Regions from separate parts of the Homo sapiens genome. Here regions 1, 2, 3, 4, 5 and 6 are each reported to be linked to region 7. Evidence: microRNA targets listed by miRTarBase, many of them from high-throughput screens and not tested one by one. Region 7 holds a microRNA gene; each other region holds the end of a gene's coding sequence. Distances are between the middles of the regions.
The links. Region 7 holds the annotated microRNA hsa-miR-6832-3p (ACCCUUUUUCUCUUUCCCAG, at 2,567-2,586, opposite strand). A microRNA usually pairs through its seed, bases 2 to 8, with sites in the 3' UTR of a target mRNA and lowers its output. Matches are read on the target gene's strand: a 7mer-m8 pairs with bases 2 to 8, a 7mer-A1 pairs with bases 2 to 7 and ends in A, and an 8mer does both.

Region 1: miRTarBase lists HARS1 as a target of hsa-miR-6832-3p. The part of its 3' UTR that is shown has no 7-base or 8-base seed match.
Region 2: miRTarBase lists SEMA4G as a target of hsa-miR-6832-3p. Seed matches in the 3' UTR shown: 7mer-A1 at 1,563-1,569.
Region 3: the mRNA of RPP40 is a reported target of hsa-miR-6832-3p. The part of its 3' UTR that is shown has no 7-base or 8-base seed match.
Region 4: miRTarBase lists NPTX1 as a target of hsa-miR-6832-3p. Seed matches in the 3' UTR shown: 7mer-A1 at 4,064-4,070.
Region 5: the mRNA of SERPINF2 is a reported target of hsa-miR-6832-3p. Seed matches in the 3' UTR shown: 8mer at 1,172-1,179.
Region 6: the mRNA of AP5B1 is a reported target of hsa-miR-6832-3p. Seed matches in the 3' UTR shown: 8mer at 853-860.

What each region holds. Positions count from the first base shown.
Region 1 is chr5:140,670,650-140,674,722 of GRCh38, reverse strand. It overlaps HARS1 (histidyl-tRNA synthetase 1), which reads left to right. Exons shown (of 13, transcript NM_002109.6): 12 at 1-44; 13 at 395-818. The coding sequence ends at 466. It overlaps WDR55 (WD repeat domain 55), which reads right to left. Exons shown (of 7, transcript NM_017706.5): 7 at 2,378-4,073. It overlaps DND1 (DND microRNA-mediated repression inhibitor 1), which reads left to right and starts at 1,147. Exons shown (of 4, transcript NM_194249.3): 1 at 1,147-1,204; 2 at 1,335-1,452; 3 at 1,817-2,278; 4 at 2,973-3,929. The coding sequence starts at 1,181. The coding sequence ends at 3,430. RefSeq lists enhancers at 682-1,477, 1,478-2,273.
Region 2 is chr10:100,983,613-100,987,674 of GRCh38, forward strand. It overlaps SEMA4G (semaphorin 4G), which reads left to right. Exons shown (of 15, transcript NM_017893.4): 15 at 1-2,004. The coding sequence ends at 519. It overlaps MRPL43 (mitochondrial ribosomal protein L43), which reads right to left and starts at 3,885. Exons shown (of 3, transcript NM_032112.3): 1 at 3,701-3,885; 2 at 3,478-3,584; 3 at 2,657-3,363. The coding sequence starts at 3,831. The coding sequence ends at 3,122. TWNK (twinkle mtDNA helicase) reads left to right here and starts at 3,931. Exons shown (of 5, transcript NM_021830.5): 1 at 3,931-4,062. RefSeq lists an enhancer at 3,644-3,713.
Region 3 is chr6:4,991,560-4,995,632 of GRCh38, reverse strand. It overlaps RPP40 (ribonuclease P/MRP subunit p40), which reads left to right. Exons shown (of 8, transcript NM_006638.4): 8 at 357-916. The coding sequence ends at 555. Among named protein-coding and RNA genes, the nearest start is that of LYRM4-AS1, 10 kb to the left of the region's middle.
Region 4 is chr17:80,467,207-80,471,279 of GRCh38, reverse strand. It overlaps NPTX1 (neuronal pentraxin 1), which reads left to right. Exons shown (of 5, transcript NM_002522.4): 5 at 246-4,073. The coding sequence ends at 467. Among named protein-coding and RNA genes, the nearest start is that of NPTX1, 7.4 kb to the left of the region's middle. RefSeq lists an enhancer at 2,631-3,355.
Region 5 is chr17:1,753,709-1,757,771 of GRCh38, forward strand. SERPINF2 (serpin family F member 2) reads left to right here. Exons shown (of 10, transcript NM_000934.4): 10 at 414-1,557. The coding sequence ends at 826. Among named protein-coding and RNA genes, the nearest start is that of SERPINF1, 6.3 kb to the right of the region's middle.
Region 6 is chr11:65,774,155-65,778,154 of GRCh38, forward strand. AP5B1 (adaptor related protein complex 5 subunit beta 1) reads right to left here. Exons shown (of 2, transcript NM_138368.5): 2 at 1-4,000. The coding sequence ends at 3,702. Among named protein-coding and RNA genes, the nearest start is that of AP5B1, 4.8 kb to the right of the region's middle. RefSeq lists an enhancer at 3,191-4,000.
Region 7 is chr6:31,632,352-31,636,424 of GRCh38, reverse strand. It overlaps MIR6832 (microRNA 6832), which reads right to left and starts at 2,638; the gene lies at 2,567-2,638. PRRC2A (proline rich coiled-coil 2A) reads right to left here. Exons shown (of 31, transcript NM_004638.4): 16 at 3,433-4,073; 17 at 2,778-3,046; 18 at 2,436-2,566; 19 at 2,060-2,189; 20 at 1,868-1,953; 21 at 1,448-1,672; 22 at 1,153-1,293; 23 at 960-1,031; 24 at 676-843; 25 at 376-458; 26 at 6-216. RefSeq lists a silencer at 1,583-1,746.

The sequences.
Region 1 (4,073 bases), not on the chromosome of region 7:
AGGATGGGGTCATCAAGCTCCGTTCAGTGACGAGCAGGGAAGAGGTGAGGGAGGTGGGCAGGAAGGCTAAGGGACAGAGAATGTATGCCATTTTGGCAGGCCCATGCCCATTCAAGACCTGAGAAAAAGCCTGGCATTGATATTAGTACAACTCATAAAAGCCTTGAGGGCTTAACCTGTTACTGTGGTCTTAGTAGGGTGAGATCTCCATCCCTGCATATACCTTATGGTTTGTTGGCTCCCCCAAGAGGCACACTCTAGCCTGAGGTGTTTAATTAGGTTCCTGCTCCCAGCTGAGACAAGCCTGATGCCTAGAGGGCTAGAGGAAACTAGGCACTCGGGGAGCAGTGGAATGGAAGATGCTTATACCACCTTCTTCTCCCATCCTGGCCAGGTGGATGTCCGAAGAGAAGACCTTGTGGAGGAAATCAAAAGGAGAACAGGCCAGCCCCTCTGCATCTGCTGAACTGAACAAACTATCAGAGGAAAGGAAGTGGGACTGGCACTATTTGAGGTTAAGACAAACTGCATATGTACTTCAATTGCTTTGCACTTTTCCGTTTCAGCGGAAGACCTGAAGAGTGGTCAGAACAGAGCCTTTGATTTTTATTATGGTTATTTTATTGATTATTACTGGCAAAAACGGCCAGGTACAACACCTTTTTCATACAAGGCCCAGGAGGCTTAGTCCAGTCTGTGCTCCTGGGCTACAAGGACCCAGCCTGAGATGGTCCCATCTGCAGGGCCCCGCACCAGTTGGAGCAGATGCCTCCCCACCACCAATTGCCAAAGGTCCAATAAAATGCCTCAACCACGGAGTCTGCGTGTGTCAGTGATGCCTAGCCCCGCCTTCCCCAGCAGACCAATGTAGGGATGGAAAAGGGAGAAAAACAGTAAACTTGTGACCCTGAGGTTCTTGTCTCCAGCGTCCACCCTGCGGCTTGGGAGCTCCTCCTCGGGAGGCAGCCCCCGTACATACGCACCCGCGACTTTGCAGCTTTCACCTGAAGGTCTGAGCGAAGCCCGGGCGGCGCACGTGCAGTGGATACCTCCACCCCCCTGGGAGGCGGGGTCGCGCTCAGAGCCAATGAGAGCTTGCGGGGTGGAGGGGTAGGGAAGCTTCCAGAGGCCGGTGGGGAGGAAGTTATAAAGAGGGTACGAGGGGGCCAGCTGGAGAGCCATGCAGTCCAAGCGGGATTGTGAGGTAAGCGGCTGGCGACTTGGGGGCCGGCGAGCCCCGCCGGAGCGGGGGTCGGCTTTAGGGACCCCAGTACCACAGGAGAGGTGGGGGCGCGCTTGGCGATCCGCCATTCCAACCTTCCTTTCCCTCTCAGCTGTGGTGTGAGAGGGTGAATCCAGAGAACAAGGCGGCGCTGGAGGCGTGGGTCAGGGAGACAGGCATCCGCCTGGTGCAGGTGAACGGGCAGAGGAAGTATGGCGGGCCACCCCCAGGTACGGTAGTCCCAGCCCCTCCGCCTGTCCGGCTACACCAGCCCCCTTTGGGGGAGGGGCTGCTCCGAGCCTTCACTGTCAGAAACTGCGAACTACCCGGATTTATACCCCCCAGCAAAGGAGGAACTGTGGCTCCACGTCCACCCGCCCCGTCGAGGGAGGGGGCCAATCTCAAGGTGTACCTACTCTGTGCCAGCCCCCTTGTTAGCGCAGTCACCTAATTATGCCAACCACCCAGGGTACGGGTGTAAACCCATTTCACAGACCTTTGTTCACATCGCCTCCCACCCCCGCGCGCTGGGTCCGTGGGCTCAGAATTCGAAAGCGTCGCCTGACGGTGGCCTTGCATACCCTCTTCCCACAGGCTGGGTGGGCAGCCCGCCGCCAGCTGGGTCAGAGGTGTTCATCGGGCGGCTGCCTCAGGACGTGTACGAGCACCAGCTTATCCCGCTGTTCCAGCGCGTGGGCCGCCTCTACGAGTTCCGCCTGATGATGACCTTCAGCGGCCTGAACCGCGGCTTCGCCTATGCCCGCTACAGCTCGAGGCGCGGCGCGCAGGCCGCCATCGCCACGCTGCACAACCATCCGCTGCGGCCGTCCTGCCCGCTGCTCGTGTGCCGCAGCACCGAGAAGTGTGAGCTGAGCGTTGACGGCCTGCCGCCGAATCTGACCCGCAGCGCGCTGCTGCTCGCGCTGCAGCCGCTGGGTCCCGGCTTGCAGGAGGCGCGGCTGCTGCCCAGCCCCGGACCGGCGCCCGGGCAGATCGCTCTGCTCAAATTCAGCTCGCACCGGGCCGCTGCCATGGCCAAAAAGGCCCTGGTGGAAGGTAGGCTGGGGCGGGGGTGCTGGTTGGGGCCAAACGCGTTCTGCCCGGCACTTTATACTGAGCATAGCTGTTAAAGTTACAAGATCTTAGAGTCAAACATGCCAGAATTTGCAACCTTTTACTATTTGATCTCAGATTTTTAAAACTTCCAATGGTGCTACCACCACCGCTTACCTAAATTTGTGACACTTCCCGAGCATTACCTCCTGACTTAATTCTCAACCTTCCCCCACCCCCACACCGCAAAATAGGCACAGGACCCTCAAGCTATGAGGAAACTGTTAGAGAAATTGATTTGCTCAAGGGAATCCAACTGAGCTTTTTACTACTATAGAATCTGTTTCCTCAGACTGTTATGAGAATTAAGTAACATAATGGGTGTACGGTACTTAGCACACTGACTGACTTACAGCAAGTTTTCCCAGTAAAGATTAGCCATTATGATGGTTATGAGGCAGACAAAGCCTGCAATTAACCAGTACTTCTCCAAGGAAACTTGTAAGGTAGCAGTGTGTTATACTCCCTTTGCAAATAATGGAGGCTGAAGGCTTCATTGTCTTTTCTTACCCATGGTCACACTACCAGGAAATGGGAAGGCTACAAATAACAGGACTGTGTAGCTCCAAAGGGCTCACCACCTGGAGGCTTGGGCCCAGGGTTTAGACCTGCCCTTGTCTTTGCATTTTTCCTACAGGGCAGTCACACCTCTGTGGAGAGCAGGTGGCTGTGGAGTGGCTCAAGCCAGACCTGAAGCAGCGACTTCGCCAGCAGCTTGTGGGTCCCTTCTTGCGGTCCCCACAGCCAGAGGGCAGCCAGTTGGCTTTGGCAAGGGACAAGTTAGGGTTCCAAGGGGCTCGGGCTACCCTGCAGTTGCTGTGCCAACGAATGAAGCTGGGCAGCCCTGTGTTCCTCACCAAGTGTTTGGGCATAGGACCTGCTGGCTGGCACCGCTTCTGGTACCAGGTGGTGATTCCTGGGCATCCGGTGCCCTTCAGCGGCCTCATCTGGGTTGTGCTGACCCTAGATGGCCGGGATGGGCATGAGGTGGCCAAGGATGCTGTGTCTGTACGGCTGCTGCAGGCACTCAGTGAGTCTGGGGCCAACCTCCTGTGGTCTGCTGGGGCTGAGGCAGGTACCATGGTTAAACAGTGACTCCATTCTTTCTCCACAGGCACCCTGAATGGGCATGCAGAGCCTGTGTCAGGCCCCATCCCAGCAGGCCTGGGTGGCCACTTTCTGACCCCCAAAGGTGGGGAGGGGCATGGGCCCAGGCCCATCAGCCTCCCTGCTGGGACAGGGACCTATGGCACCTGGGGGCAGCTTAGGTTTGGGTTAAGTTGTGGTGAGGGGCCTTGCCCTCCCGCTCCCAGCCCAGGGTCCAACCTGACCCAGTGATCTTCCATGGCCGTTCCTTGTCCCACCCCCACCCGATCATACCTTCCCCCCTCTGCCACAGCTTAGCATGAATCTTCTTTATTGTCCTGATTTGTCCTCTTTGTTGGTTTTTATTTGTGGGGAAGGGCAGCTGAGCCAAAGGGGTCAGAAATTCTGCCCTTTGCCTCCACCACATGGCATTCTGGTTTTGGTTTCTGTATAGTTTTGGGTCTTTCTATGCTGGTTGTATTTATATTAAACCCCTGGTTAGTATATACTTGTGTCTGTGCTGTCTTGCCCTAGCTTAGAGTTTGTTTACACTGGTAGAGTGAATAGCTGCTACGGGGCAAGTACTTCCTCACATCAGTGCTTTGAGTGCATCTTCTTGTGTTGCACTGTAGGGTATTATAAATTCATATCC
Region 2 (4,062 bases), not on the chromosome of region 7:
GCACAGCTGGCACCTGATGTGAGACTGCTCTATGTGCTAGCCATTGCCGCGCTTGGTGGCCTCTGCCTCATCCTGGCCTCCTCCCTCCTCTATGTGGCCTGTCTGCGGGAAGGCAGACGAGGGCGCCGACGGAAATACTCACTGGGTCGGGCCAGCCGGGCAGGAGGATCTGCGGTGCAACTGCAGACAGTCTCAGGCCAGTGTCCTGGAGAGGAAGATGAGGGTGATGATGAGGGGGCTGGGGGCCTGGAGGGCAGCTGTCTCCAGATCATCCCTGGGGAGGGAGCCCCAGCCCCACCACCCCCACCGCCCCCACCGCCACCGGCTGAGCTGACCAATGGCTTGGTGGCACTGCCCAGCCGGCTGCGGAGGATGAATGGCAATAGCTATGTGCTTCTGAGGCAGAGCAACAATGGAGTACCAGCAGGGCCCTGCTCCTTCGCCGAGGAACTCAGCCGCATCCTGGAAAAAAGGAAGCACACGCAGCTCGTGGAGCAGCTAGATGAGAGCTCTGTCTGAGCCCAGCCTCCCAGAACAAATGCTCTTCCAAGCCAGCCTATCTGTCCCAGGCTGGGCCACTGCCTCCCTAACACAGCCACCCTCCCTTCATTACCCCCACTCCATACCCTTCTCCCAACTTTTTGATGTCCCTGTAGGGCTGGCCAGTCAGGCCCAGCCAAAGCCCCCTCCTCAGTCTCCACAGACCCACATGTGAGCAGCCCAGGCCCATCGGTGCTCCTCAGAGGTAGGTGCTCCCTCAGGATCAGGTGCCCTGCAGACCCAGAGCCAGTTCCTATCCCCTAACCTAAACACTTATAGGTGAGGACTCCATCCTCCTGTTCCATTCATCTGCCCAAACCCTTTCTCTTTCTCCCAGGCAGGGCTCTGCAGGTCCATATGGGCTCAATGTCACCACCCTCTGCATGGCCCTGTGTGCTGGATGGTCCTGAAACCAGACAAGACCTCTGCCAGCCACCTAAGCCCTGCGTACATTCACATGCACACATGGAAGAATGTTTATCGGCTGGGCTGCAGTGCCCCCACCCTCACCTTCTCCTGGTGCATTCTTGTTTCATCCCTGCTTCTGGACTTGGGGTACCCTCCCAATTGCCACATCCTATCTGGTCCTCTTCCCCAGCCCCATGTGGTGACCTCTTTGTCAAGAGCTTGGGAACGGGCCAGCCTGGGGAGGTAAGACTGCATCACTCCCCTCCTCTCCCTTCCTGTGTGGCCCTTGTGAATCAGCCTCCCCACTCTCCTTGGTCATTCTCAAGAGTATGAGAGACAGAGCTCCAGGCATGTCCCATCCCCATGCACATGTGGTAACACACACCTGTATCACACATGTGCTTACATTTCCACTCACATGCACCTCTGAGCCTCCCTTGCTGTCTTGGACCTGTCTGTTGGGTTTAGTCCGTGGACATTTCAGAGGGAGATCCCCCTCCCATTTAACTGTCCTCACAGGCCCTTGCCTAGGATGGATGACCAACACTGCACTCAATGAGCCAGCCTCTCTTTTGGGGGAATCAAGCATTTGCTTCCTCTAGACTACAGCAGGGAAAGGGAGGAGAAATCTGATGTCTCAACTGGCACATGAAGCCCATTCTTGGAACTATGCAAAGGGCAGAGGCTGGGAGTTTGGACGCTTAGCTCCTACCCCTGTCCTACCTCACCGGGGCACTTTCAGGGGCCAGGGGCCTCTGAAGTCTCTAGGCCTATATGGGACAATCAATTCTGACTGAGCTCCCCCATTCCCCTCGGGTGAGGATGACTGTTATTTTTGTAGCTGAGAACGTGGAATCCCACGGGTTTTTACTGCCCTTCACCCAACCTCTCCCACCTCCACCCCACAATGAATGTATTTATTGTGAGAATGGCTACACTTCTTTAGGAATGCCCCCACTTACAACCAGGTGGGTGGAACAGGCATGTGACAGAGTGGGGAGCCTGGGCTCAGCTCCTCCCCCTGCCGTTGGTTAATAAACACCCTTTTTCCCCACAGCTATGACTAGTCTGCTTCATCTAGATGCGCCCACCCCTGATCACCAGGGGACAGGCTCCTGAGCCTATACAGAAGGTGATATCTGCCTCCAGGATTGGCTCTGCTCCCCAATACAACTATTTGCAGAGGAAATTGGGATCCTCCGCTTCCATCCTGACTCCTTGGCAGGCACACAGGCCTCTTTAGTAAGGTTCACACTATTCATTGATCATGGTGTTAGGGCATGACAAGAAAATGACAACAGTTCAAGAATTCTTACAGGGGTTTCTAGATTTTCATTTCCTGCCTCTCATTTCCCCACCATCCCCCCTTTTTAAACTAAGATTAGAAAATACTCATTAATATCAGCCTTCCTGCCCTTCCCCAAGGTTCTCAGCACCCCCCACCAGCTGGCTCAAGGGACATGGATTTTATTTCTGCACAAAGAGGGACGTGGGGGGAAGGAGATGTATAGCTAAGACCAGAGAAAGCTTGTCAGCCAGGACTTGGTCTGAGAATCACTCCCCTCTCCCTTTCAGGGGTCAGGCCTAGATTAATCACTTGGCCTTTGATACTAACCACCTGACAGTTGTTATATGTTCTGCGTCTAGTTTTAAAATAATGAAAACTGAGGCTTGTGCTTAACATATGCACACATTTTGAAGACAGACCTGAAATGTGACCTTGGATAAGTTTATTAACCTGTTTTATAAATCTGTATTCACACAGATATAAAGTGCCTAGCCCATCACAGCAGAGCTCTCCGTAGCTCAGTGGTTGTTCCAATAAGACATCAGGGATTCTTCAGAAGCCAGCCTTCAGACCTCTCACTGTGTTTTGAGATCATTATTATCAATTTGGATTTAAAAAACAAGGGCCCTGTAAAACCCTTGAAGTCTTCCTCATCTCAGGTTTTAGGGATGCCACTTGCATAAAAATGAGTGGTTCACAAGGTCACTGCCCCCAGAAGCAGGCACTGGAAAGAAACAGGCAGCTCTTCATTATCCCAAGCAGAACCTCTGTCAACTTGCCCATTGATGGGTTCCATTTGCCTGGGCTTGGAATCCCAAAGGGGAAGAACCACCTTTACCGGAGTAACAGTCCAAAGCCTGGGGCTGCAGTTGGTGGGGCAACTCTTCACTGTGCTTGCACCTGGGCTGGGGCAGGATCCTGAACCTCTCGGGGGCGTAGCCCGCGGAACGTGGTCGGCTTGTTGGTGAAGGGGTGCCACTGGCCCTGGATGCTAGGGTTGTCGGTGTGGAAGGGCTTGCGGATGCGGATCACGTCCAAGCCCGACTGGTCGGCCAGCTTCTGCACCAGCGTCGAGATCTCCTCGACCGACTTGCAGTGGATGCTCTCCTCGCGCACAGCCCCGTTAACTGGCAGAAGAGGGGTGAGAGTGGGTGGAAGCTGGCCGGTGCGACCAAGCGAGAAGGAGGATAGCGGGTCGAGCCCCTGATCCCGCCCTCCAGCCCGAGCCCGGCCCCACTCACGGTATTCGGCCACTACTCTGGGCACGCAGCACGGACGCGAGTTTACATATATTACGACCCCTGGATTCCGTCGGGCGAAGTCGATCACCTCCCGCTCCACGAACTCCCTAAGCGACCCGGGACAGTGAGCAGTATGACCCCTGACTGGGGGCGACCTACCCGGGGAGTCGTTGCCACCTCCACACCCACCCCGACCCGCGCCTGCGCACTTCCCTTGGCTCACCTGGCGCCGCGAGACGAGGCGCCGTCGCGGCTGACGCTGAAGCTCAGACGCTGCAGCTGCTGCACATAGCGACCCAGTCCGTTGTGGAGAACGCTGGCCAAGAAGCGGCTCGGAGTCCCGCGCGCCGTCATAGCTACAGCTTGGAGGCCGCGGAGCCTAAGCAGCGAGGAGAGGGGGGCGGGACTAAACCTCGAGGCTTCCGGTTCCGGGACGACCGCTCCCGGAGTTTTGCTTCCGAGGTCAAGGCGAGTAGCATGTGCGGGAGACTCACGTTGCCGGCGAAGTGGGAGAGAGAAAAGTGGTAACCTGGGGCTGGGGGCCGGCGCGGCGGAGCTCGGAGTAGTAGAGCGGAGTGAAGACAC
Region 3 (4,073 bases), 27 Mb from region 7:
TCCTGCAACGTTTCAGTTAACTGAGACTCTGAGAACAGTACTCTTAATAGGAGGGAAAGGATCCTTAAACGCCTGTGGGGTTTTTTGTTTTGGGTTCTTTTTGTCTTAAAGACCTCCCAGAATGAGGGTGGGAACAGCTGAGGTTTGTTTCATGTGTTGTATATTAGTTAATCCTTATGGAGTTCACAGTGTGACATCAGGAACTTATCACACACCTCTTGATTTTCAAAAATTAAAGCTAAGATCTAAGCTTTATTAGAATATCAGAAATACTACTTATCCTGAATAAATTTTTTAAAATGCAGACATTCCTAACTCTCTTTTAAAACTCTGTTTAACAACTACCTTTTTTTCAGTCACTACTTTGATGAACCGAAGTTAGCTCCATGGGTTACACTGTCCGTTCAAGGCTTTGCAGACAGCCCTGTTTCTTGGGAAAAAAATGAACATGGTTTTCGAAAAGGAGGAGAACATTTATATAACTTTGTGATTTTTAATAATCAGGACTATTGGCTTCAGATGGCTGTTGGGGCAAATGATCACTGTCCACCATAAAAAATAAAAATTAAAAATCGTGTTTACTTACATTTACGCTTGCTTTCAGATTTCTTAATGGTAAAAGGTCTGTGTGTCCACTCAGGCTTGTGTGATGGTGACATTTCTCAGATCAGCATTTGCTGGCATCCTGCCCTGCACCTGAGACCCATCTGTGATGGCAGCAAGGCCTGCTGTCCAGTGAATAGCTCATAGTTGATTTCTCTCTGTCAACATAAGCACAGGGTTGTGGGTTACTATGTGGTACACTGGGCCAGGATGTCCAGGGACCGGGGATATTGGTCCCCATCTCACTCCATTGGTTGAGATATATTTTGTTCATTACAACTTTTTCAGATAATAAAAAGAAATCTCATCCTTACCAGGGCCAGTCCCTGTTGTAAGTGCTGTTTATATATTACCATGTTAGAATCTCACACCAACCCTTTGAGGAAACTGAGGCACAGTGTGTAAATACACTACCGAAGTTATAGTGGCAGTGGACCTGAGACTTGATCTCAGGCCAGCCTAGTTCCTAAGTGTGTTCTCACGCTAATGCCTCTGGATCAGAGAGGGATCAATGGATACTGTAAATCGTTACAGAACAGGTTGAAAGAATTTTATTTCCAGCAGTAAGGCTGATAAGGACCAGTTGAAAACAACTAAAACTTTAGAATACATATGAAGAACCATTTTTTTTTTATTATACTTTAAGTTTTAGGGTACATGTGCACAACGTGCAGGTTAGTTACATATGTATACATGTGCCATGTTGGTGTGCTGCATCCATTAACTCATCATTTAACATTAGGTATATCTCCTAATGCTCTCCCTCCCCCCTCCCCCCACCCCACAACAGGCCCCGGTGTGTGATGTTCCCCTTCCTGTGTCCATGTGTTCTCATTGTTCAATTCCCACCTATGAGTGAAAACATGCGGTGTTTGGTTTTTTGTCTGAAGAACCATTTTTTTAATGTAAAAAACAAGAGCTGCAAAATAAGAGTTCTTAAAGGGAAAAAAAAATTTTTTTTTTTGTAAATGGAAGCAGAAACCCAAAGAAGTAAGTGGAGTACTGACGCCACTTTTCCGCCTTAGTGCATCTGCCAAATGCCAAATTGAAGTTTTCTTCTCATAGCCTGGGGTGGGAAGGGGCTGCAGAACAGCACACAAAGCTCAGGGCCTGCCCAAGGGAGGAAAACTAACAGGAGACCTCATAAAGTGAGACTCCAAAAGGATAGATGCAATGTAGGGGTAAACTAGGAATAAATCCATCTGCTTCACCCATCCCCCCAACCCCTGTGAACAGCAAGGAAGATTTCTGTCCTGGGGGAAAACATCTTACTTGAGAGCCTATATATAACCACAGGATTTATATATAACAGCAGTTTTTAGGGTGGCTTGTTTGCACCACCTGGATAGTCTTAAAAAATCTCAAGAGGGAAATTTCAAGTGATAACAGGATTTTACTGCCTTACAGGTAACTGGCAGAAGCAAAACAGATTGTCTTTGGAGGAACTCGGAGAGTTTCAAGGAATGTAAGTTCATAGAAAAAAATCACAAGTGTAAAATAGACAAGAACCAGCAGAAACAAGGGGCAGAAGCAGGCCGTTAAGTCTCAGAAAGACTTAAGATGTTAAAGTTAGCAAGCACATCCATAAAGTATGCTTTATGCTTACAGAAATAAGGAGGGTTAAATGGCATGAGTATAAGAACAACGAAGCAGATTGTAAAAAGTGCCAAACAAATCTAGGAATGAAAAATATAATTGAAATTGCAAATTCCACTGGTTGGTTTAACAGCAGACTAGACGCCACTGAAAATAGAATAATGGATATGAAGAAATTAAGATCTTTTCAAATTTGCAAAAGCTGAAAGACTGTCACCCACAGGTCTGCACTGCAAGAAAAGTTAAAGGATGTCCTTTGGGCAGAAGGAAAATGCCTGCCTTCTGAAGGAAATAAGCACTGGAAATAGTAACAACATGGGTAAATGTAGCATTTATTATTTAAACCTCTTTAAAAGACAGTTATTTAAATAAAAGTCATAGTGTAGGATTTATAATATATGTAAGAGTAAAATGGATGACCACAATAGCTTGAAGATTAGGAGAGGAGAATCATGCTATTGTAAAGTTCTCATACACAAGGTGACGTGCTACCATTTGAAGATAGAGTGTGATAAGTTACAGATATGTGCTGTAAACCCTAAAGCAGCTGCTAAAATGACATACCAAAAAATCATACCTATTAAACTATCAAAAGATAAAATGGAATTATTTTAAAAACTTGATTCATCAAAAAGAAGACAGAAAAAGAGGTAAAAGGGAATAAAGAACAGTTAGGATGAATCGAAGACAAGTAGCAAGATGAGAGACTCAACCTAAGCATATCAATAATCACATTAAATGTGAATAGTGTGAACACCACCAATTAAAAGGCATAGATTTTCAGACTGGATTGAAAAAAACATGACCTAATTATATTCTGCCTACAAGAAATGTACTTTAAATAGAAAGATACAAATACTTAAAGGATGGAAAAAAGATATGCTAACACTAGTTACATGAAAATTGAAGTGGCTATATTAATCAAAATAGAGCAAAAAGTAATTCCCAGCATATTAGTCAATTCTCGCACTGCCATAAAGAAATATCTGAGACTGGGTAGCTTATAAAGAAAAGAGGTTTAATTGGCTCACATTTCTTCTTCTTCTTTTTTTTTTTTTTTTTTTTGAGACAGAGCCTCCCTCTGTTGCCCAGGATGGACTGCAGTGGCGCAATCTCGGCTCACTGCAACCTCCACCTCCTGGGTTCAAATGATTCTCCTGCCTCAGCCTCTTGAGTAGCTGGGATTACAGGCATGCGCCACCATGCCTGGCTAGTTTTTTTTTGTTTCGTTTTTTTGTTTTTGTTTGTTTTTCTTTTTTTAGTAGAAACAGGGTTTCACCTTATTGGCCAGGCTGGTCTCGAACTCCTGACCTCGTGATCTCTCCACCTCAGCCTCCCAAAGTGCTGGGATTACAGGCATGGGCCACCACACCTGGCCTAATTGGCTCACGTTTCTGCAGGCTGTGCAGGAAGCACAGTGGGCATCTGCCTGGCTTCTGGGGAGGCCTCAGGAAAACTCAATCATGGCGGAAGGTGAAAGAGAAGCATGGCCAGAGCAGGAGGGAGGGGTGTGGGAGGTACCACACACTTTTAAACAACCAGATCTTGTGAGAATTCTATCACTAGAAGAGCACTAAATGGGGGAATCCACCCCCATGAGCCAATCACCTCCCACCAGGCCCCAACTCCAACACTGGGGATTACAATTTGACATGAGATTTGGGCAGGGACACAGACCCAAACCGTATCACCCAGGATTAAAGAAAGTTATTTCATACTGACAACACACACCTCATAACAAAGCTTCAAAACACATAAAGCAAGAACAACTAGAACTTCAAGGAGACATAGATCAACCCACTATTATCAGACGTTAATACCCCACCCTCAATAATTGACAGAACAAGTAGGCAGAAAATCAATAAGAATAATAA
Region 4 (4,073 bases), not on the chromosome of region 7:
CCAGGTCCCCCCAGGAGAAGCTCCAGGGCAGAGGTGGTCGGTGCCATCCCTTTTCTTGGGCTCCCCCAGAGGAGGGATGGATGTAGGGCTGGAGAGTCAGGGACAGGGAGACGAAACGGCACCTAGGAGTGTCCGTGAGAGTCCGTGATCGGGCAGGCACAGAGGCACTCAGATCCCCGGCCTAGGGATGGGCCCCCAGACCACCTGGCGACCCCTCCACTCTCATCCTCTGTTTTTCTCTGAAGGACACTCTGGGTGGTGGGTTTGATGCCACCCAGGCATTTGTGGGTGAGCTGGCCCACTTCAACATCTGGGACCGCAAGCTGACCCCCGGGGAGGTGTACAACCTGGCCACCTGCAGCACCAAGGCTCTGTCCGGCAATGTCATCGCCTGGGCTGAATCCCACATCGAGATCTACGGAGGGGCCACCAAGTGGACCTTCGAGGCCTGTCGCCAGATCAACTGAGCACGGCAGGCCAGGCTGAGCCCGCCCGCCCTCGCCCCCTGCTTGTGCGGCGATGATCTGTTTTGTGCGTCTCTTCTCTCCCTTTTCCCCAGGAATGAACCGAGGCCGTCGCCCCTGCACACGCACACGCACACAGCCTGGTTTTGTCCTCATGCACACGAAGCAGCCCCTGCTCCCATCTGTCCCTGAGGAAGCCCCACTTCTCTGTAGGAGCCCGGACTCTCTCAGGCATGCCCCATTCACAGCTGAAGTGGGTGCTGCAACGTCTTGAACAAGGCAGAAGTTGGTGAGAGGATCTGTGTGTGCGTGTCTACATGTGTGTGTCTACGTGTGTGCGTGCGTGGCTGGGGGAGGCCTTTTCTTTGAGGACGTACCTCATTTCCTTCTTTCTTCTGGCTTTGGAAAAATCTCATGATGAAAATTCATATTTGCCAACTTTGTTAGCTGCGTGCGTGCTTTGGGGTTGGTGCAACCTCAGTACACGCATTTGTCTTTGTTTGCAAACCTTTCTCAGAGCGACATATCTTTATATTGATGTAATAAATGTCTTTTAGTGGTTTGTCAAAGGCCGGGGGCGGGGGCTCTCTACAGAGAATTTTTATTTTGTAATAGAAGTGAACTGTCTCTGAAGGGTGAAGGCAGGCCGTCCTGGGATGGTACCCTGTGCTCTCCCGTGGAGGAGAGGGGATGGCTGAGGACACTGGCCCTTACCCCAGGGCCAGACAGCATCCATCCCTGCTGTTTGCATCTGAGAGCAGCATGGGGCCTGGGAGGTCGGCCTGTGTGCCCAGCTCAGCTAGCTCTGCCCCAGGACGGCCCTGCCCTCGACCTTCCCACCTCCTCAGATCCTGCAAGGCTGGGGTCTGCCCCTCCCTTCTCACCTCTGGAGCTGTGCTGCACTGCTTCAGCCCAGAGGGCCCTGAGAGAGGAGCGTGCCACCCACAGCCCGGGAAGCCGGGCCCCAGCACCCCTCTCCTTTGGCCTCCGGCAGTGCAGACCAGAGGGGACCTTTTAAGGAAAGAAGCCGTGTTTCGATGAAGACCTGGCCACATGGGGCCACTGGGACTTCAACCCAGCCCATCGGTGGGAAGGTCCTTTTTGGGGGACTTTGACAGCCATATCCCTCCCAGCACACCAGGCGCCAGGTGAGCTGGTTCAGACCCCTCCAGGGGTACTCCAGAGACCTCACGTGTGGAGCCAGGCCTGGCCAGGGCAGGGGCCTGAAACCCACTCCTCCATCTCATGGGGCTCACGGCCTACAGCAGCCCACAAGCTGCCACTGGCCGGCGACACTGACACCTGAGCAGTGTCCAGAACCTTTTTGCCTTTTTTTGTTCCCCGTGAAAAGCAACATGGACATTTCCTTCTAGTCCTTCCAAGGAGGGGAGAGAAGTGTATGTGCATTTGTGTGTGTGTGTGTGTGTTGTGTGTGTGTGTGCGCTAAGTGAGAAAGAGAGCAGGCTCGGGAGGCCCTGCCCAGGGTAGGAGGAGCTTCCTGCTTTGCACCATCTGGTGGTCGCACGCCCTGAGGGCACCCCGACTCTGTCTCCAGGAGTCTCATCAGCAAACCGCTGACAAGTCTTTCTAGAAATTCTACTGCACTGCCTGGCTCAGCTGCAGCTGCAGACATTTCTGCAGGAGGAGCAGGTGTTTCTGTCTTCTGTTCCTTCTAGGGCCACCTGTCCCCTTAAACACAGGTCCACGTTGTGTCAAGAACCTAGTGCATCTGTGTGTGTCTGTCAGTGTCTCTGTGTCAGTGTTCTCGTGGGTGTCTGCACGGTACCCGGCCGCCGTTCTGCAATGCATCACTCCCGCAGAGGGGGGTGCAGATCAGGCGCCGTGCTGCGCGTTGTTGTTCAACAGTGGCTTTTTCTTAGATAATCGTGCTTCCTCAGCGCCCGTCGGGTTGTGGCATCCTTGGATCTGCAGGGATCTTCTCCGTTTGCATGTTCCTCGGGGTGGCGTGTTCCTTGCTCCCTGGGTCCGACATGTGTTCCCGCACCTGCATGGACTGCCCCGGTTCTGTGTTGTGTGCCGAGTGCCGCCCAGTGTTCTGTGACCACCCGTGTAGCTACTGAAAATGGCTGGGTAAGCAAGTCAAGGGTGTTGGAGGAGGTCAAGAGAGAGCTCAGTTTCCCTCTCCCCCTCCCCAAACACACCAAGAAGCATTTTTAACGTGTAGGTTGAGAACAAGCCTAAAGGATTCCCACAGCTGGGAGCCAGCAAGAGAGCTTGGAGTCGCCTCTCTAGACCAGATCTAGCCCCACCCTCACTCCAGCCATCTCGGAGCCCTTGTGTAGGCAACGCCCGGTGCGGGCTGTGTGGGGTGCTCCCCTGCCAGCACCTCCGGCCAGCCCCGCCCCTGCCGATCTACTGGACCGCAGACCACCTTCTGCCCCCGTGGGCCAGGTGGGAGCTGTCCGTTCAGGACCATGAGCCATCCTCTGCCCTGACTAGCGAGGGGCAGAGCACACCCCAGTGCTTACGCCTCCACCCCTGCAGCCTCCTGGCCCGCTCACCTTCCTCACCCCTCCTCTGACCCACCCATGGTGCCAGGGCCGAAGCTGACCTTTAGCTCCCTCCTGCCCCTTGCTAGGGTCTGAGCCAAGCCCCTCGACTCCCTCACTGTGTTGACACTTGGCACTTTGCTGGCCCCGAGAAAGGTCGATGACACAGCCGCAAATCTAATCCACGTAGTTCCCATTTACTCCTTAATCTGATTGATGTTCCCTCTTGCACTGAATAATACATGCCTCTCTCAGGTAAGCCATTTTATAAAACAAGAAGATAAAAAGCACTGTTGAGGCAGTGTTTGCTTTTGCCGAGCTGGTGTCCGACAGCTCCCTGGGTGTCCGGGGTGGGAGAGCTGTTGACAGAAGCTCTCCGGGCCCTCAGGGGCTTAGATCCCACTTGAGTCGTAAGCCTTCTTGCTTTTGATAACACAGTATTATTTCTCTTACTGTAGAAGAAAAAGTTTATTACCAAACAAGAGTATTTTTATGAAAGAAAAGGACAAACCTATAAATTAACTCAACCTATATCTCCCTTGAAAATACTTTCAGGCTCCACCAAAACGTAGAACTGAAAGCATGTATTTTGGAAGAAAGAGATACATTTTGTATGCTTTCTTTTCCTTTTGTAGATTCCCAGTTTATTTTCTAAGACTGCAAAGATCACTTTGTCACCAGCCCTGGGACCTGAGACCAAGGGGGTGTCTTGTGGGCAGTGAGGGGGTGAGGAGAGGCTGGCATGAGGTTCAGTCATTCCAGTGAGCTCCAAAGAGGGGCCACCTGTTCTCAAAAGCATGTTGGGGACCAGGAGGTAAAACTGGCCATTTATGGTGAACCTGTGTCTTGGAGCTGACTTACTAAGTGGAATGAGCCGAGGATTTGAATATCAGTTCTAACCTTGATAGAAGAACCTTGGGTTACATGTGGTTCACATTAAGAGGATAGAATCCTTTGGAATCTTATGGCAACCAAATGTGGCTTGACGAAGTCGTGGTTTCATCTCTTAAACACAGTGTGTAAATTTATTCAACTAACGATGGGAAATGTATTACTTCTGTACACAGTGGACTGAAGTGCAATTTGTTGAAAGGGAACA
Region 5 (4,063 bases), not on the chromosome of region 7:
ATAAATAAATAAAGCATCTATCCTTCAGCCATTTGCTAAGCAGCTGCTGTATTCCAGGCACTGTACCAGGTACCGGGAGCCCACCATGTACAAACAGCTGAGTCTAATGGGGTGGGCAGACGAGCAATCACATACTTACTACAGCATAAGCGATAAGACAGAGAGGGCTTCTCTCCAGCTCACCTGGGAGAACACTGAAAATGTACCTTGGTTGGACTTTAGAGCTGGGGATCAGGGAAGGCTTCCTGGAGGAGGTGGTGTTTAAGCTGAGTCTTGGAAACCGGATAGGAATGAAGCAGGTATCTGTGAGTTCAAGCTGTTCCCTGGCCAGGATCTCAGACACCCTCCCAAGCAGCTCCAGGAGCCTGTGAGGCCAAGGGCAGCTCTGACCAGCCATCTCTGGCCCTGGGCAGGCCTGCAGGAGTTGTTCCAGGCCCCAGACCTGCGTGGGATCTCCGAGCAGAGCCTGGTGGTGTCCGGCGTGCAGCATCAGTCCACCCTGGAGCTCAGCGAGGTCGGCGTGGAGGCGGCGGCGGCCACCAGCATTGCCATGTCCCGCATGTCCCTGTCCTCCTTCAGCGTGAACCGCCCCTTCCTCTTCTTCATCTTCGAGGACACCACAGGCCTTCCCCTCTTCGTGGGCAGCGTGAGGAACCCCAACCCCAGTGCACCGCGGGAGCTCAAGGAACAGCAGGATTCCCCGGGCAACAAGGACTTCCTCCAGAGCCTGAAAGGCTTCCCCCGCGGAGACAAGCTTTTCGGCCCTGACTTAAAACTTGTGCCCCCCATGGAGGAGGATTACCCCCAGTTTGGCAGCCCCAAGTGAGGGGCCGTGGCTGTGGCATCCAGAGTCCCTGCCTGGACCAGCCTCTCCACTCATGTGACTCTTTCCAACCGGCTTTGTGGCACTGGGGCAGGGGCCGGGGGCAGTCTGAGAGAGGCCATTCTTTCCCAACACCTCTTGGGGAGTTTAGGGTGGGGGGGGGGCGCGGCTGGGAGGAGGGCAGGCATCGGGGAGCCGGGAGCCTGACCCTCATCTTTCTTCCAAACAGGCTCAGAGGGTGTCCTGCACCGGGGCCTGGGCAGGAGGGAGGTGCTTCTAGTTCTGCCAGGAGACAGGTTAGCTGCTCCCCACGTCAGCTGGGACACCCCGACTTTTGTTTACCAGAGAAAAAGGGAGGGGGAGAGGGCTGCCTTTGGACTTGTCCCGGGACACCTAGGCTAGGGTGGGGAGAGACGGGCCCTGGTGGTGGCTCGGGAGGCGAAGCGTTGTCCTCAGCCCCGCGTGGAACTCGTGTCTGGCACAGCCTGGCTGTGGCCTAACCTGCCGAGAGTCCATCAGCCTCCATCCTACCCCCTGTGCCTTGTCACGCCAGACTTCCCACGGCTCCTCGAGATCCCAACACTGCCAGCATTTCCCTTCCTTCCTCTCCTGTCTCCCTCCTCTGCCCGGGAGCTCAGGAACCGAGGCAGGGAAGGATCCCATGAGCTCCTTAAGGCTCTTTTGTAAGGTTTTTGTAGTGATTTTTATGCCACCTGAATAAAGAATGAATGGGCCTGGCTGGTTTGATGTCACCGTTCTGGGCATGGGTGGGGACAAGTGAGGATGGTGGGGAAGGCAGGGAGGCGGCCGCAGGGTGGACTGTGCTGAGGAACCCTGGGCCCAGCAGGGGTGGCAGCCCGCGCAGTGCCACGTTTGGCCTCTGGCCGCTCGCCAGGCATCCTCCACCCCGTGGTCCCCTCTGACCTCGCCAGCCCTCCCCCGGGACACCTCCACGCCAGCCTGGCTCTGCTCCTGGCTTCTTCTTCTCTCTATGCCTCAGGCAGCCGGCAACAGGGCGGCTCAGAACAGCGCCAGCCTCCTGGTTTGGGAGAAGAACTGGCAATTAGGGAGTTTGTGGAGCTTCTAATTACACACCAGCCCCTCTGCCAGGAGCTGGTGCCCGCCAGCCGGGGGCAGGCTGCCGGGAGTACCCAGCTCCAGCTGGAGACAGTCAGTGCCTGAGGATTTGGGGGAAGCAGGTGGGGAAACCTTGGCACAGGGCTGACACCTTCCTCTGTGCCAGAGCCCAGGAGCTGGGGCAGCGTGGGTGACCATGTGGGTGGGCACGCTTCCCTGCTGGAGGTGCAGGGGGTCCACGTGGCAGCGGCCACCTGGAGCCCTAATGTGCAGCGGTTAAGAGCAAGCCCCTGGAAGTCAGAGAGGCCTGGCATGGAGTCTTGCTTCTTGCAAACGAGCCGTGTGGAGAGAGAGATAGTAAATCAACAAAGGGAAATACATGGTCTGTCCGAGGATGAGCTGCCGGAGAGCAATGGTGAAAGTGAAGTGGGGGAGGGGGCGGGGCTGGGAGGAAAAGCCTTGTGAGAAGGTGACACGAGAGCACGGCCTTGAAGGGGAAGAAGGAGGGCACTATGGAGGTCCCGGCGAAGCGTGGCCTGGCCGAGGAACGGCATGTGCAGAGGTCCTGCCGAGGAGCTCAAGACAAGTAGGGGACGGTGGGGCTGGAGTGGAGAGAGTGAGTGGGAGGAGGAGTAGGAGTCAGAGAGGAGCTCAGGACAGATCCTTTAGGCTCTAGGGACACGATAAACACAGTGTTTTTTGTCTTGTCAAGTGTGTCCTTTTTATTTTTTTGAAAGAGTCTCGCTCTGTAGCCCAGGCTGGAGTGCAGCGGTGCGACCTCGGCTCACTGCAACCTCTGCCTCCCGGGTCCAAGCAATTCTCCTGCCTCAGCCTCCCGAGTAGCTGGGATTACAGGCATGCGCCACCACGCACTGCTAATTTTTGTATTTTAGTAGAGACCGGGTTTTGCCATGTTGGTCAGGCTGGTCTCGAACTCCTGACCTCAGGTGATCCGCCCGCCTCGGCCTCCCAGAGTGGTGTGAGCCACTATGCCCTGCAGCACTTGTCAAGTCTTTCTCAGCGTTCCCCTCCTCTCCACTGCAGCTCCCAGTGCCCCAGTCTGGGCCTCGTCTTCACTTCCTGGGATCCCTGACATTGCCTGCTAGGCTCTCCCTGTCTCTGGTCTGGCTGCCTTCACTGTAACCTCCACCCAGCAGGTACCTCTTCAGCACCTCCCATGAACCCAGCAGAATACCAAGCCCTGGGGATGCAGCAACGAACAGGTAGACGCTGCACTCCAGCCTGGGCGACAGAGCAAGACTCCGCCTGAAGAAAAAAAAAAGGACCAGGCCGGGCGCGGTGGCTCACGCCTGTAATCCCAGCACTTTGGGAGGCCGAGGTGGGTGGATCATGAGGTCAGGAGTTCAAGACCAGCCTGGCCAAAATGGTGAAACCCCGTCTCTACTGAAAAATACAAAAATTAGCTGGGTGCAGTGGCGGGCGCCTGTAGTCTCAGCTACTCAGGAGGCTGAGGCAGGATAATTGCTTGACCCCAGGAGGCAGAGGTTGCAGTGAACCGAGATCACGCCACTGCACTCCAGCCTGGGCGACAGAGCAAGACTCTGCCTCAAAAAAAAGAATAAAAATAAAAAAAAGGACCAGATACAGAAAACAGAAGGAGACGTACTATGAAGGAAATTGGAGAGCTTTTGGGATACTGAGTAACTCAGGGTGGCCTTTCCCAGGGGACATTTAGCTGAGAGATAGACGGTATGAAGACCTGACCGTTCAGAAACAGGGGAAGAGGCAGCAGCCCGGGCAAAGGCCTTTGGGGCAGGAAAGGGCTTGGATCACTGGAGAAGCAGAAAGATGGCCAGTGTGACCAGAGTGTGACAAAGTCAGAGAAAACCAGGAAGATGGAGCTGGAGACACAGGCGGGGCCAGATCACGAGGGTCCTTGCAGACCAGAGCAAGGGTTTGGATTTTATTCCAAGTATGAAGGGAAGCTGCTGAAGTGTGTTTTCCTTTACAATTTGTAGTTGAAATATAATATGCAAAGTACACAAGTCTTAACTATATGTAAGCTTAATGAATGTTTCCATGAACCAAATACCGCTGTGCAACCATCACCAGCTCAAGAGACGAACCCTTCTCCCTCCTCCTGACTGCCAGTAACATAGTGGTTCAGCTCAAGAAACAGAACTCTTCTGACTTCCCCTAACA
Region 6 (4,000 bases), not on the chromosome of region 7:
GTTTTAAGTTTTTTCTGAGATTCCCTCGGCCACGAGGTGGCATCTGTTCAGTCGGTGGGGTTTTAGGATTTTTAGTTTACATAACTGATTTGATAATCCAGGGCATTTGTTACAGCGTATCCAGGTGAGATTATGACTCAACTATTTAGCACCTCCATCTCAACATGTACTTCCCCAACGGTCATGGCAGAGGAAGAGAGGGCTGGAAAATTGAGCACTGGCAATGACATATTTTGCCCCAAAACTGACCCCTTCACATTTCTTTTTTCTTTTTTGAGACGGAGTCCTGCTCTGTCATCCAGGCTGGAGTGTAGTGGCCCAATCTCAGTTCACTGCAACCTCCACCTCCCGGGTTCAAGCGATTCTCCTGCCTCAGCCTCCTGAGTAGCTGGGATTATGAGCACGCCACCACACCCGGCTAATTTTTGGATTTTTAGTAGAGACGGGTTTCACCATGTTGGCCAGGCTGGTCTCAAATTCTTCACCTCAGGTAATCAACCCACCTCGGCCTCCCAAAATGCTGGGATTACAGGTGTGAGCCACCGCCCCCGGCCCTTGACTCCCTTCACATTTCATTAGCCAGAGCTGGGCTTGTGGCCAGACCTGCCTTGAAGGAGGCAAGGAAGGGTATGTGAACATGAGCAACGTCCACACAGGTGGACAAGGTGACCCGTGTGACTTTGGTTCCCTCTCTTTAGGAAGAATTTTTGGTTGTACTTGGGACAGTTACAGGCATGCTGCTATTGCCATGATCTTCGGGAAGCTGAAGTGATGAGCAGCAGTGTGTGATTCTGAGGACACAGAGGGCTGGGGTCTAGGAGCTATCTCAGGTGGGCTCAGTCAGTGCCATCCTCCCTTTTGGTGCCTCCCTAGAAGTGCTGAGAAGATGCAAAACCAAAAGCTTTTACTCCAACATTGCTTAGCCAAGCTAAGCACATGCATTCCCTATGATTCAGCAATTCTGCTCCTAGCATGTATCCCAGAGAATTGTCCCATGGGTCCATAGGGGCATATAAGAATGGCCATTGCAGCAAAGTTCTGGTTGGGGTAGGGGGAGCTGAAAGTCATCTGGTGTCCACAACTGGAGGAATGGATGGATAAAATGGGATGGATGCACAAGTGGGCAGACAGATGGGTGAAAGGATGGTCAGTCCTTACATGGACCAGTTTCCTTATTCTTAGGCTAAGGATTAGCATCTCCAGGCAAAAAGAAAACGTTTCTGGATTCCCTTGCCACTGGAGTTCCGTGGAAGAGAGAAATGGAGTCCACTAATGAGGTGTCCTTTGAAGGATATGGATGGAGGACACAGGGCCAAGGAAGTTTGCTCTGCGGGCCCAGCCTTGGAGATGTTCAGTCCTTCTGCAGCAGCACCACGCTTCTGGCTTTGTGGGTGTCAGGAGGCAGGAGTGGCAGTCCCACCCCATGTCCCAGGGCCCAAGCCCAGCTTCCTGGGTGCTTACAGGGGATGGCAGGCAGGACAGTACGTTCTGATCCCAGCTCCAGTGGGAGCTTCCTGGAGGCGACTTCTCCAGCCTTCCCATGTACTTTAAGTACCCTGATTCCCTTAAATCCCCTTCTGCCAAAAACAGCTGGAGAAGTTTCTGTTTCCTGAAACTGACCCCTTCCTGATTTGGAAATGACTTGCCGAGGTGACAAAGCAAGTTATTGCCACATCTCAAGTTTGAGACAGGCCTCCTGACTCCACCTATTAACAGTACCACTGTCCCAGGCCCTTTCTTTTTTTTCTTTTTTTGAGACAGAGCCTTGCTCTGTCGCCCAGGCTGGAGTGCAGTGGCGTGATCTCGGCTCACTGCAACTTCTGCCTCCCAGGTTCAAGTAATTCTCCTGCCTCAGCCTCCCAAGTAGCTGGGATTACAGGCGCCCGCCACCACGCCCGGCTAATTTTTGTATTTTTATTAGACACAGGGTTTCGCCATGCTGGCCAGGCTGATCTCAAACACCTGGCCTCAGGTGATCCACCCGCCGCAGCCTCTCAAAGTGCTGGGATTACAGGCATGAGCCACCGCACCCAGCCCAGGCCCGTCTTTCCTCTCCTAGTCTGCCCCAATCGGAAGGATCAGGAGGCGTAAAGCTGGCCCATGGGGAACCTGTGGCTGGGAGCCCATGAGGCAGGGGCAGCAGAAGAGGGCAGAGACGGTTGGGACCTCTGTGGCCCTGGCTGAGGTCTGCTCTGATGGCATGGTAATGGAAACCTGCTACCAGATGACAAAACACTATTACCAAACAGCTGGGTGACCTTAGGAAAATCACTCAACCGCTCCTGCCTACGGATTTCCTCATCTGCGGGGCCCTGCAGAGCTGTTGCAAGGATGAAATGAGGCAACGTACATGTGCCTGGCAGCACAGCTGACCCCACACAGCTCAATCCTCAGTGTTTGCATGTTTGGGAAAAAAAAACAACAACTAGAGGAACTAGTTCTTCTTACCTGGGAAGATTCCTAAGCACAAATTAGGTTTCTTAGGGGCTGAGATTAGAAAAAACTTGGTCTCAGACCCTAGACCTTATTAGCAGGCCCTTCCTAGAGCTGGCTCTAATCGGCACAGCTTGGGAAGCTCTCCACCTGGCCACTGCTGTCTTTCTGTTTCTGGCTTAGGCCCACTGGCCTGCCTGGCGTGAGCTCCCTGGGGCAGGGAGCTTGCAAACCTTGGGAGTTGAGAAGCGCTGGCTCGGCCAGGTGTGGGGGCTCACACCAGTAATCCCAACACTTTGGTGAGGCTGAGGCAGAAGAGTCATTTAAGCCCAGGAGTTCGAGACCAGCCTAGGAAACAGGGAGATCCTGTCTGCAAAAAATACAGTGGTGACTCACACCTGTAGTCCCAGCTACTCGGAGGCAGGCTGAGATGGGAGGATCACCTGAGCCTGAGAGGCAGAGTCTGCAATGATCCCTAATCACACCACTGCACTCCAGAGCGCCAGAGTGAGATCCTGTCTTTAACCCCTCCCCGAAAAAAAAAGAAAGAAAAGTACTGTCCAACAGGTCAGGTCCACACTCTAGCTTCAGCCTTCTTCCTAAATCACTGAGTGGCCTTGGGCAAGGCCAGACCCTCTCTGGGAAGCAGAAAGGAGATTTTTCCCCTGCCTCCTGGGCAGAGATTCTGGAGAGCACTAGTGTGTCTGGGTGAGAAGGAACTCTGTAGCTCTACAGTGCCGGGTTCTGTCTGGAAGCCTTCTTGGGGCCTATGACCCTGCTATGGTTTGAATGTTTGTCCCCTCCCACGCTCACGTTGAAATGCGATTGCCACTGTAACAGTATAAGATTAGACCCTAAGAGGTGGTCAGGCCACGAGGGCTCTGCCCTCCTGCGTGGACTCAGGCCGTTATCTTGGGAGTGGGTTCGCTCTCTCCCCTCACTCCTGTCACTCTGTCCTCTGTCATGGGAAGATGCAGAAGGGTCCTCACTGGGCTCTGGGCCCTCCACTATGGACTTCCCAGCCTCCAGAGCTCTGAGCCAATACATTTCTGTTTATTATAACTTACCCCGTCTCAGGGATCTTGCTAGAGCAGCAAAAACAGACTCAGACAGACCCTCACCCCCAGGAGCCTGCTCCCAACCGGGGCCCAAAAGAAAACAAGCCAGCGAGGGCACTGCGGAATGCAGGGTTTTGGCGACAGAGCTACAGGAGTGTGCCTTGGCCCCCACAAGGGCCACAGTCCTGCCCCCACCTGGTCTCCCGGGGCTCAGACAGCAGCCGCCAGCCCACGGAGGTAGTCCCCCGCCAGGGGCAGCACGGCCCAGTCATCGGTCCGCAGGGCCACAGGCACTCCATCTGCCAGGGCCGCCTCCAGCCGCAGCAGCAGCTTTGAGTCCGGGGGCAGGTGGATTGCTACACAGTAGCTGGTAGGAGGCTGGGCCACCACCACAAAAGGCTCCAGGTGGCGGGACACCAAGCCCTCCAGGCCCTGTGGCCCAAGTGGACACCACACACGACTCTCAGCACCCTCTGGCAGGCAGGAATCCCAGAGCTCCTCAAAGAAGC
Region 7 (4,073 bases):
CTTACCTGAAGCAACGATGTGTCAGGCAAAGGACTGGGGCAGAAAGCCGGAGAGTAGAGGAAGGAAGGTGGAGGGTAGAGAACTCCTCCAGCCGGCAACTTCCCCAGCTCTGTAGCTTGCATTGTGGAGAAATCCAGAAACTGGCCCTTGAGAGCTAACCCAGAGAGCAGTGCTGAGGGAGGGGCTGGGCCGGGGGGTAGGTATAGGGGCTGTGATCTGAAAATAAATTGTGGGGAGAAAAGCTGTTAGGAAGCCAGAGTCCTAGCAATGCCTTAAGTCCACTAGCTTCTAGTACCCTAGAACTGTGTCTTCCCCTTCCCTCTCCCCGAAACACATCTCCAAGTACTTCTGTGATCCACAGGCATCGAGTCTTACCTGTAAGGGTGCAGTGAGGGTGTCCCAGGGCGGAAGCCTCCACTGTTTGGATGTAATTGAGAGTCCATGGCTCCCCCAGAGATCTGCAGGAGAGGAGCACGGTTGAAACAGCTTTAGTATCTGTGGTCAAGAAAAAAGATCACCATCCCACCCATAGAAGCAAAAAGTAGGGAGAAAAATGATGTGACAAAGTGGTATCTCACAACTCTGCAACGTAGAAAGGCTTGATTATAAATACATACCAGGCAGAAAAAAATTATTATTCACTGAAGGGGTCATGCAATGGGAAGCGGGGCCTACCTGAGAACTGGAAGGCCCAGCACTGCCATAGAAAACCTCAGGATACAGGCGCTGGCCTGAGGAGCTGGGCTCCGGGACACAGTGCCCAGAATCCAGGTTCTTGGATTGTGGCTCAGCAGAGGCAGCAGCACTGGGAAGCAGCTCCCAGTCTCGTGATACAGGAATGGCCTGGGAAGGAGAGGCCTCGTGGAGAGGGATGTCTGGCATCCTGGACGCCCTGGTCACTCCCAGCAATCTTCCCCAGAAATCTTGGGCCTTTCCACCAAACTCTTACTCCCACTTACCTCAGTGACTGATGCTGTTAGCTCCTTCTCTGCTTTCAAGCTGTCTCCTACCACTAGGCGTAAGTCTGAGTCCTGTGATCACAAGAAGGCAGGAGACATTGTCCCGTGACAGACATGTGTCCTCTATGTCCCACCTTTAGTCCTTCCCTTCTCTCCACCCAACTCAGGATACCCAGATCCAGCCCACACAGACCTTGTCACTAGTGCCAAACTGGACTGGGGGACCAGGTCGATGGGATGGCCGAATGGGGCCAGGCTCTGTGCCTCGGTCTGTACGCTGTGATCGTTCTGTGCCAATGGGGCCAGGGGGCAGAGGCTGCTCCCGGGGCAGCTCCTGGATTGGGCACACAGTAAAGTGCATTGGGGGAGGGAAAGGGAAATCCAAATTGGAATGCCCAGAACACACACGCAGAGAGAAAAAGCAGAAAAAGGTAGGGCCAAAGTCAGATTCCTGGAAACATTCCCCTTATCCTTTTTTGGTCTTTTACCTTTCTGTCCCCATCGTGGGGGGCAGGTGGTGGTCTCCTAGGAGGTTCAGAGCCAGGTGGACCCTCACAAGGAACAGCATTCAGGGGTGAGGAGCCTCCAGGCCTCTTGGGGGGTCCCTCTGCTGCCCCCTTGAGTCCTCCATCAGGGGAACTTCGCTGGCTGCAGGGACCTGATGACACCTGAGAATCCCCACTCAGGTCCACCCCACTGTCAGACTGACTCATCTGAGAGGAGTGGAGAAGGAGCTAGTTAAGTCAGGGTAGAAAGCACCCCAATACCTGACTGATGCACACATACAAACTGCAGAAAGGGGACAGCCAAGTGAGAGAACAGCTCCAGACTCAACCCAGAGCAGGTGGGGGGTATGACCAGTGCTCAAAAAAGTCCCAGCTCAGACACACCCTCCCACCCTCACTCACTTCTGTGCCAGCCACATCCTCAAAAGGACTCAGGGGCTCCATCCAAGGCTCCATGGAGCTGGGCCGGTAACTCTTTCGGCTAGTGGCTGGAGAAGGGAGCACCAACCAGAAGAGAAGTGAGGAGATGACAGTTCAGAAGCCCCTCTCATTCTTAACCCTTCTACCATAGTCCTTTCACTCAGCTTTACTCACCAGTATGTAAACGGTTCCAGATGTGAGGGGTCAGGGCCTCTGTGCCTGTATCTCTGGACTCTGCCTGAGGGCCTGGGCCCTCAGGCTTAGAGCCCAAGAATCCAGAGCTATGAGGAGGTGGCAAAGATTCCTACAGATGAGAAGGGCCAGAAGCAAAACATGAATTGGGTGGGAATTGGGAATTATAGGAAGCCAGGACAGAGTGGGGTGACACAGGGTGTGGGGACAACAAGGGAGACACATGGGAGACTAATACTGAGAATTCTGGAGTAAAAACACAGTGAAAGAAACAGGAAAGAAAACAGAGAAAACATAACCCAGAAGAATTTTCACGAGTAAGAGTGCAGTGAAGCACAATCTCAAACCCATCCCTTACCTCCTGTAGCAGCTCTGGTTTTCTGGGAGGCCGCTCCCGACGTTTAGGGGGAAAGGGACTAACCCCGGCAGAGTCCCGAGGAGTCCCACCCACCCCTCTCACCATTGGCCCCGGCTCCTCAAAGTGGGGGTCTGGGAAAGAGAAAAAGGGTCAGCATCTGCCTGGCTCTGCCACTGACCCTAACTTTTCCTCTCTACTCCACCTCCCAATTCTTCTACCCTTGCTCCCTGCAGAAACGCACCCAGCAGCAGGGTCCCTAGGCCAGGTTCTCCACCCGCTCCCTCCAGCACTTGACCTTCTCTGGGGATGGAGATATTCCCACCCATAACCCCTCCAGCTTACCAGAACTGAGGCCGCTGTTGACCCTCTGGGGCTCGTATCGGGTTGGGGGCCTAGGAGAGGGGCCCTGAGGGGCTTGGGGAAGCCCAGGCTTGTGCCTTGGATGACCCCCTGGTGCAGTTACACTCCCTTGACGGCTACTAAGCTGGGCCAGAGCCTGTTGGATGCCAGCAGGGTTGCTGTGGATAACTTGGTCCAGGCGGAAGACAGCAGAACTGCTGGGAGGTGGGGGAGGCAGGGGAAGCCCCGGGGGACGCTCCTCTGGAGGACGACTGGAGAAAACAGAGCATTAGCTCCAGTATCCACTAAATCGTTACTTTTTCCCACAAGTTATGTTTCCCAACTTCTGCTTACAACCTATTCTCTTCCCTATTAAAGTCCAGGTGTTTTTGAGTCCTTCTAAGGATTCCTATGCATACAGATGCACAGACTGGAAAGCAAAGAACCAGCAATGAATACATAGGTGGGTGTTCTTGACTCTAACACCCTACCAACCGCTTTCCAGTTGCCTTAGCCAGACATGGAAATCCTACTGACATTCTAGAGCCCATGGCCCCTCAGGCCACAATCTCCACTCCACCCAAACTTATCTTTCCCTCAGGCTTTTTCCCCCTCCTCCAATTTTTAAACCACAATAAATTTGTTTGTTCCTACCCACCTTCGGTTCTTGGGAGAGGGCCAGCTCCTCTTGTCGCCTCGTCCTGGCCCGGTCCTTCCTCCAGGACCCCCACCGCCTCCTCCACTGCTGCTGCCACTGCTGCCAGCCTTGCCCCCTGGGCCAGGGCGCCGATTCTGCCGTTCCATGCCTGGCCGCTGACTTGAGAAGCTCCGTTTACTCAAATCCTTGGCTCTCTGGCTCAGATCTCCGCGGGACATGGCTGAAATACCTGGTACGGCTCCACCTCCACCTCCCCCAGGAGTTCCCACAGCCTTGGGTGTCAGCAGTACTGGTGGGGGTGCCTCTTTGTCCCCTCGGCGCTCACTGGTGAAGTCACTGCTCTCTGATGCAGTCTCCCATTCCTCATTGGCTTGGTCTGAGTTCTGGTTTGACAGATCAGGAGACTTGGCAGCTGCCCGGCGAGGTGCTGGGGCCACTGTGACTGTTGTGAGGGCCTCCTCAGGTCCAGGAGCGGAGGCTGGAAGGGTTAGGGAGGGCTTGCCCTCAGACCCCCTTGCGGCATTCTCCCGTTCCTGCTTCAGCCTCCGGAAACGAGGCGGTTTATCCTGCTGCTGAGCCCTCCCATGTCGCCTCCTTCGGGGTCGCTCCCCATCTTCCATGCCCACATTGCTACCTCCATT